2 linked regions of the Homo sapiens genome follow. The protein of the gene in region 1 purifies or fractionates together with the protein of each later gene. This does not show direct contact. Each region holds a gene or a part of one and is shown on either strand. Other genes may lie near its edges.

Region 1 (4,032 bases):
ATCTTCAGGTTGCACCGGGAATAATCCAAATGCAAGTCACACAACACTTGGCATTTGAAAAAAAAAAAATCATTTTCCATTGAGGATTTAAATCAATTTTAATAAGCGCAAAATCAGACATCAAATAAATGGAACTACAATACTAATTATTTATCCAGACAAAGCTTTCCAAACCCCACCCCAACTCCTACCCCTGGAAGACAGAATTAATACATAGGGTCTTTTGGCTTAATAAAAGGACTTCTAGTATCTTAAAAGTTTGAGAACCGACGTCCAGTGAAGTAGACTTGGAATCCTCATTGTTTTCACGCAGCACTAGGTACAAGAGATTCCACAGTATGGATCCTACAACGTATGCATTGACAGAAGAGTTCCTGCTCTCTCAAAGGGCTTTGCTCTCCAAAGAAAAAAGAACATGTAACAGTGCCACACCAAACTTGCCATTTAAAAATGCCCTTCAGAAATCACAAGCTGAGATTTCTGGTGCTTGTTTTGCATTTACTTTGGCAGCCTAGGAAGATGAAGGAAAACAGATCAGCAATAGAAGGAATGAAGGAAGGAGTCTTTGTGGGGTAAGAGATGGGAAATGAATAGGAGGTACAGCAGTGCTGTGCACAGCACCAAACTGGGTATCCAAAGACATATGCCCCGGCCCCAGATCCCCAAGAAACTGGAGCTTCCCTGAGGGTTTCGTGAAGTAACGTACCCAAGAGCCCTTGTAAAGGATAAAGCCCTCTGCAGATAACCAGTCTCCTAACTCAGTGATTATCTGAGATATGAGAGCTTTATGAACTAAAATGTGTTGTGCAAATGTCAAGATTTAATATTAGAGGCAGAAAACAGATGTTGTGTTTTTATTCTATAATTAATGGGATGTGCTATGCCATAAGTATACCTTGCAATTTGTTGCCTTTGCTATTCTAATACCTTTCTTCAATGTCTGTCCTTGGAAGAGTTCCAGAGTAAGACAAAAACTATAGAGAGAATACAATAGAGAGAATATGAAACCAGGCCAGGATTAAGTAAGAGACTTGGTTCCAGAAGACACTAAAACAGTATCTGCAAAGATACAACCTAGTGTCTTGAGTGTTCCTAGGATGCATAGGATTGGAGAGGAGCTATCAAGGTAAGACCTCTGTACAATCCTCAGGCCAGCTGTCTCTGCCCCTTATCTGAAGGTGTCACGTGGCAGTGAAGACCCAAGCTCAATTCTCTTACAAGAACAGAAAACCACAGGCAATGAAACAATATCTAGTTCTCTACCTTAAAACGCTACTAGCTAGGGTGATCTTTCTGGACCCTAAATGACAAAGTCTGTAGTCATATACCATCAACCTAAAGGAGAGACAGTGATCTGCCTATGTACTGGCAAATAATCTTCAGAAGAAAATAGTGATTAGAACTGAAATTATTATATTTAGCAGATATTTATATCCCTTCCAGTCCCCATTCTTATTTTATACCTTAATGCAGGCCTATAGTTTGGTAATTTTAATACAACTACTTGCTGGGGCTAACCAGGGCCTGTCAACAGCTCCTCTCAGTGTTCTAGAATAGAAATTGGCTAATAAAAACTGTTAACCGCTCTTTTCCAATGCTGCTGCTGTTCTTTAAAACGAAAGATTAGCCCAGTACAATCCTTCTAATGGACATATTCTTTTATTCTTGATTGTCCTATATACAAGCGCTTACCTAAGCTTTCCACATAATGGTTAGTGGCCTTGGCACGCTGGGTTTGAATCCCTGACCTCGAATCCCTGACCTCGCTTATTAGCCTTGTAACACAATTTCCCTAAGCCTCAGTCTTATCCTCAAAAATGTGGCTAATACTACTTATCTCATGTGGTTGTTTTAAGGAGTAAATGAAATAACCTATAGAAACCCTTCAGTATAGAGTCTGGCATAGGGTAGGTGCTCAATATATTTTATTCATTTTCCTTCAAGCTATTTGAAATCGTTTTGGGAAGAAGGCAAGATTTAAATGATAAACAAGCAAACAGTTCTCTATTGCATCATAATTACAAAAAAACAGATGGCATAAGGAAAATCTTGGTCGGTCTATTGTTATATCAAAGAAACCATGCTAAACCAAAAAAAAAATCCTTGCTTTGGAGGCACTTATGAAGTAGGATTAAATGAAAGTGTTGGAATACAGATGAGAAGGAACCTTAGACACAGGTTCTCCCACCGAAGACCATATCAGCAATGCTTCTAATTACCAATATATCAAAGTCCTCTCCACTCCCTGTAACTGGCAGGAGACAATCTGAGGCAAACTCAGTGTACCAAGAAGTCCTGTGAAAACTTAACCTAGACAGCACAATGAATGAAAGGGAATGAATTCCCTGGCTTTTGGCCTTCTAACACGTGACCAGTATGCTTCAAAACATGTTTAAAACTGTTTCTGTAAAATATTTTTGCCACCTAAGTTTCCCCCCCGCCCCTTCATAAAAGTGATATTTGAGTAGTGAGGGGAGAAATGGCTCAAAATTTGTTACAAGAGGTTCCAAAGAAAGACAATAAGGTATAGAGAAAGGGAAGACAGGAAGAAAGAGAAAGAGGTCAAGTATGTAGTGGATAGTACAGGGAAGTCACAAGTATCTTCTGTCTGGAAATGCTGCAGATTTTGTGGTTAGCCTCAAGATATTAGGTGGGAATAAACATGTCATTGAGAGTAAATGTAAACACAAAAATGAAAAATAAAAATTGTAACAATTCACTTTATTCTAAACTGTTTTTGATGGTTATATATGGCAGGCCTAGGAGGCAATGTTAGACAGTAGATAGTTGCCTTCGGCGGAGGGTGACCTGTGTTCTGTCCACTGCTCTACATTGTAAAGAGGTGTCATCTTGGACAAGTCACGGCAGCTCATGTTGAGTCTTGGGATGATTCTTTATCTAAAGGTAGAGAACTGAACCAGCTTTTTGATGGTGATGAGGAGGGGTTTTGAGAGGAACAAGGATATACAGCATCTCTATTGAATATTTGGGCCATAATGTAACAGCCTAGGATGCTGAGATTTACTCAAGAGCTGAGGACGGCTAGGGGCCAAACACAGATTTTTAAGTTTTGAGATAGGGTTTACTCTGTTGCTAAGACTGGAGTGCAGTGGCAAGATCACAACTCACTGCAATCTCTGCCTCCCAGGTTCAGGCCATCCTCCCACCCCAGCCTCCTAAGTATCTGGGACTACAGCACATGCCACCATGCCCAGCTAATGTTTAAATTTTTTATAGAGAAGGGGTCTTGCCATGTTGCCCAGGCTGGTCTCAAATACCTGGGCTCAAGTGATCTGCCAGCTTTGGCCTCCCAAAGTGTTAGGATTACAGGTGTGAGCCACTGCACCCAGCCTCAAATACAGATTTTTAAGAGGCCAGATTTATACACCTGGCCATCATGGTCATGTTGGTTAACCTCCATCATGAAGCTAGGCTTTTTAACCTTCAGGAAAACTACCCCAGAGCAGTTAATGGCCTAAATAAAGGAGGTCAAGCTATATGTCTCAGTTTAAAACAGAACATGACAAATTAACCTGAAGCAGGAAAAGGAGGGGACATCAAACCTGACACCCATCCTGATAAGAGTAACTGCTCTCATTTGACAGCCAGAGTTAAACTAGATGTATGCAATCTCTACAACAAACATAGTCAATGCCAATCAGATAGTCAGAGGAACCATCATTTAATGGGAAATAACGCAATAACATATATAACAGAGCTGACCGGAGGTGTTGCTATAGATAATTCATAACAGCAGTAAATTCAAAAGTCATTTACTATGTTTTTAGCTTTGTCATTAACACAGCCTGTGTGGATACTCCCTGTTTCACGTCTAGATGACTTCCTCCTGGCTTTGCTCAAGGGTCCTTTAGCATTTGAGGAGATGATAAGGGATGGGATCCCCGCCTGTTGAACCAGAGGAATCTGAGGAGTACCAGGTTTCCACTGAAGACTAAATCATGATCCAGAGAAGGAATCTCAGAAGTCATTCTTGTCGTGGGCATGGCTTAACGTCTGTCTCCCCACTGTGGG
Region 2 (3,500 bases), on another chromosome or scaffold:
TGTGTATATTACTCTCTGCCGTAGTCACCTGGATACCATCTCTGGACTTACTAGTGTAAGAATTGACAACTAAATTTTTGGGTTTTGTTACTTAACATTAAAAAATGACTTCTCTTCTAATACTGGAACAGTTTTATAATCATTCATTTCAAAGAGGTATGTCTTTTTCCTAGGAAGAATAGTGTTTCTTGGAATATCAAGTTGGACTAGACAGAGTGTTCAGGGTAATAATCAGGGGACTGATTTAACAAATTGGATATTACAACACCTGTTATATATTAGATAGTCATAAAATATGTGTTCTGTTAATTATGGGCTAGCAGTTTCTTTGGCTCTGCTTGGAAGAGCATTTCATCTAGACTTAGTGAATTGTGTTTCTAGTTCTATAGAACTAAGGAAAGGTTTGGGTGGAAGTGAAAATATAAGTTAAATGAAAATTTTATTTTATCCTCCTGTTTAGATTTGTACTTTTTTTCGTTCCAGGCTTGTCATATCTTATTTTAATCATTTTAATTATTTCTGGCCCTGATATGGTATCTGAATTCTTTTTTTTTTTTTTTTTTTTGAGACGGAGTCTTGCTGTGTTGCCTAGACCAGAGTGCAATGGCATGATCTCAGCTCACTGCAACCTCCGCCTCCTGGGTTCAACTTGAAGCAATTCTCCTGCCTCAGCCTCCTGTGTAGCTGGGATTACAAGTGTGCACCACCACACCTGGCTAATTTTTGTATTTTTAATAGAGACAGGGTTTCACCGTGTTGGCCAGCTGGTTTTGAACTCCTGAACTCAGGTGATCCACCTGCCTGGGCCTCCCAAAGTGCTGGGATTACAGGTGTGAGCCACCGCACCAGGCCTGAATTCTTATATATTTATAATTCTATATTTGCTTGTTTTTTTTTTTGTTTTTGTTTTGTTTTGTTTTGTTTTGAGACAGAGTTTCTCTCTTGTTGCCCAGGCTGGAGTGCAATGGTGCAATCTCGGCTCAACGCAACCTCCGCCTCCCGGGTTCAAGTGATTCTCCTGCCTCAGCCTCCTGAGTAGCTTGGATTGCAGGCATGAGCCGCCACGCCTGGCTAATTTTGTATTTTTAGTAGAGATGGGGTTTCTACATGTTGGTGAGGCTGGTCTTGAACTCCCGACCTCAGGTTATCTACCTGCCTAAGCCTCCCAAAGTGCTGGGATTACAGATGTGAACCACTGCACCAGGCCTGAATTCTTATATGTCTATAATTCTTTTTTTTTTTTTGGATACAGAGTTTTGCTCTTGTTGCCTAGGTTGGAGTGCAATGGTGTGATCAGGGCTCACCGCAGCCCCTACCTCCTGGTTTCAAGCGTTTCTCCTGCGTAGCTGGGATTACAGGCATGTGCCACCACGCCGGGCTGATTTTGTATTTTTAGTATAGACGGGGTTTCTCCATGTTGGTCAGCCTGGTCTTGAACTCCTGACCTCAGGTGATCTGCCTGCCTTGGCCTCCCAAAGTGCTGGGATTATGGTCGTGAGCCACCGCGCCCAGCCTGCTTGTTTTTTTACCTAAAGAAAAATTTGCACTTGTTTTAATTAGTTATAGGAAAATCATGATTATAAAATTTAACAAGTTTTAGCTTTATAACTTTACTATGAATATTGTCTCACTTTATTTTGATTTTTGTCTGTCTTATTATTGTATAGTCCTGTTTCTTAGCCAAATAAGTGTTAACTCCTGCCTAGGAAGTCATTCCATCCTATGTCTCTGTACGGTTTTACATTGCTTATGGAAGAGAAGCTTCTGTTCCAGTTAGTCTCTCTTCCATGACACAGACTCCTGACTTCTGTTATTTCATGTTTTCTTTATTTGTATATCACATTTTCCTTTTTCAAGGACCTTACTCTTCTGTTTTCATTCAGTCTTCCTCCTGGACTTACCTGTTCATTTGTCTTTCCTTTTCCTAACTCCTTTTGCTTTTTTTAAAAAAAGAGCACAGTATCTGTAATAGCATCCTATATAAAAGTCTGATTATACTGTCCTTTTAGGGGGTATGTTTCCAAATTACAGTAAACTCGTGAATTTGGTGAGATCATGATATGTGAGTATGGTTCTAGAGATATATGAGGGCCTCACATGGAAAGGGAACTAGTGAGTACTAAGAGAAGATTGGAAGGGTAACGACTTAATTTTGCAGATTTTCTGCCAAAAAAAGCCATTTTTCTCATTGTAGCATGACATGAGTTGGAGTCATACAGATTCAGGCTTAAATCTGCCCTGCTCATGAAGGGAGTTTTGGGGTGATAGAGTGTTATATAAAACTGGATTGTGGTGATTGTTGCAGAAGTATATACATTTAATACATTTATCAAATCTTTCACTTAAAATAAGTAAATTTTACTACACGTACATTATGCTTTAATATAACTATTAAAAACAATTTTGCTCCAGTATTTACCAGTTTGCGATATCAGGCAAGTCATGTAACATCTGAGCTGTAGTTCAGTCAGTTAACAAATGAGTATGGTAATGCCTGGTTTCCTGAGATTGTTGAGGTGAGGACTAAAAATAATACAGGGTATGCAGCTGGCCAATAGTAGGTGCTCAGTTAATAGCAGCTGCAATTCTTAAACTGTCTGTTTATATGGACCAAACATAATGAATTTGCTGCCACCACCTGGTATGGTAAACTTAGTGTGTGCTTATCTGGTAATGACTAGAAGAATTTCTATGTTTCTCTTCACCGACTTCCCTCTTCTGGCTTTTTCATTAGTCTGCAGTGCTTTATCCTCCATCGAGATAAAAATGCTTTATCCTCCAGAATCTCTGCATCTTTTTCTAACGATTTCTTCTTTTCCCTATACTTTTAGAAAGAAATCCACTGTCTGATCTGCACTGTCAACACTATAACAAATCTCTTCTGAGGTCGCTAGTGACCTAATTGCCAAATCTTTTAACTGCTTCTTTTTGTCTTAATTCTGTAACATTTAAAATTTTTGCTTCTGGGGCTTAATGTGGTCTCATAGTTATGACCACCTCCTTCACTTCCCCTCGCTAGACTTTCCTTTTTTTGAGCCAGAGTTTTGCTCTTCTTGCTCAAGCTGGAGCGCAATGGTGTGATCTCGGTCCACTGCAACCTCCGCCTCCCGGGTTCAAGCGATTCTCCTGCCTCAACCTCCCGAGTAGCTGGGACTACAGGTGCACTGGGATTACAGGTGCGCGCCACTGTCCCTGGCTAATTTTTTTGTATTTTTAGTAGAAATGGGGTTTAACCATGTTAGCTAGGCTGGTCTCGAACTCCTGACCTCAGGTGATCTGCCCACCTTGGCCTCCCAAAGTGCTGGGATTACAGGCGTGAGCCACCGCACCAGACCTCCCCTCACTAGACTAATGTTGAGACCTTTAAGTGTCCTTTACTGTCATCTTTAGCTCTTACTATGCTTTTAACTTTCACCTTAGTCTGTTAGAAAACGGAATTATTTACAAGGCAGTTTCTTCCTATTCTTGACTCCATTGTAGCCAGATTAATTTTTCCTAAA

The links.
Region 2: the proteins of ZNF202 (region 1) and ZMYM2 purify together in Homo sapiens (co-immunoprecipitation; 3 studies listed by BioGRID and IntAct, with this or other methods). This does not show direct contact.

What each region holds. Positions count from the first base shown.
Region 1 is NC_000011.10:123,734,959-123,738,990, forward strand, and holds part of ZNF202 (zinc finger protein 202), read right to left. Parts: intron 1-4,032. UniProt on the Homo sapiens protein: Transcriptional repressor that binds to elements found predominantly in genes that participate in lipid metabolism.
Region 2 is NC_000013.11:19,965,227-19,968,726, forward strand, and holds part of ZMYM2 (zinc finger MYM-type protein 2), read left to right. Parts: coding exon of another isoform or gene 1-55; intron 56-3,062; exon of another isoform or gene 3,063-3,176; intron 3,177-3,500. UniProt on the Homo sapiens protein: Involved in the negative regulation of transcription.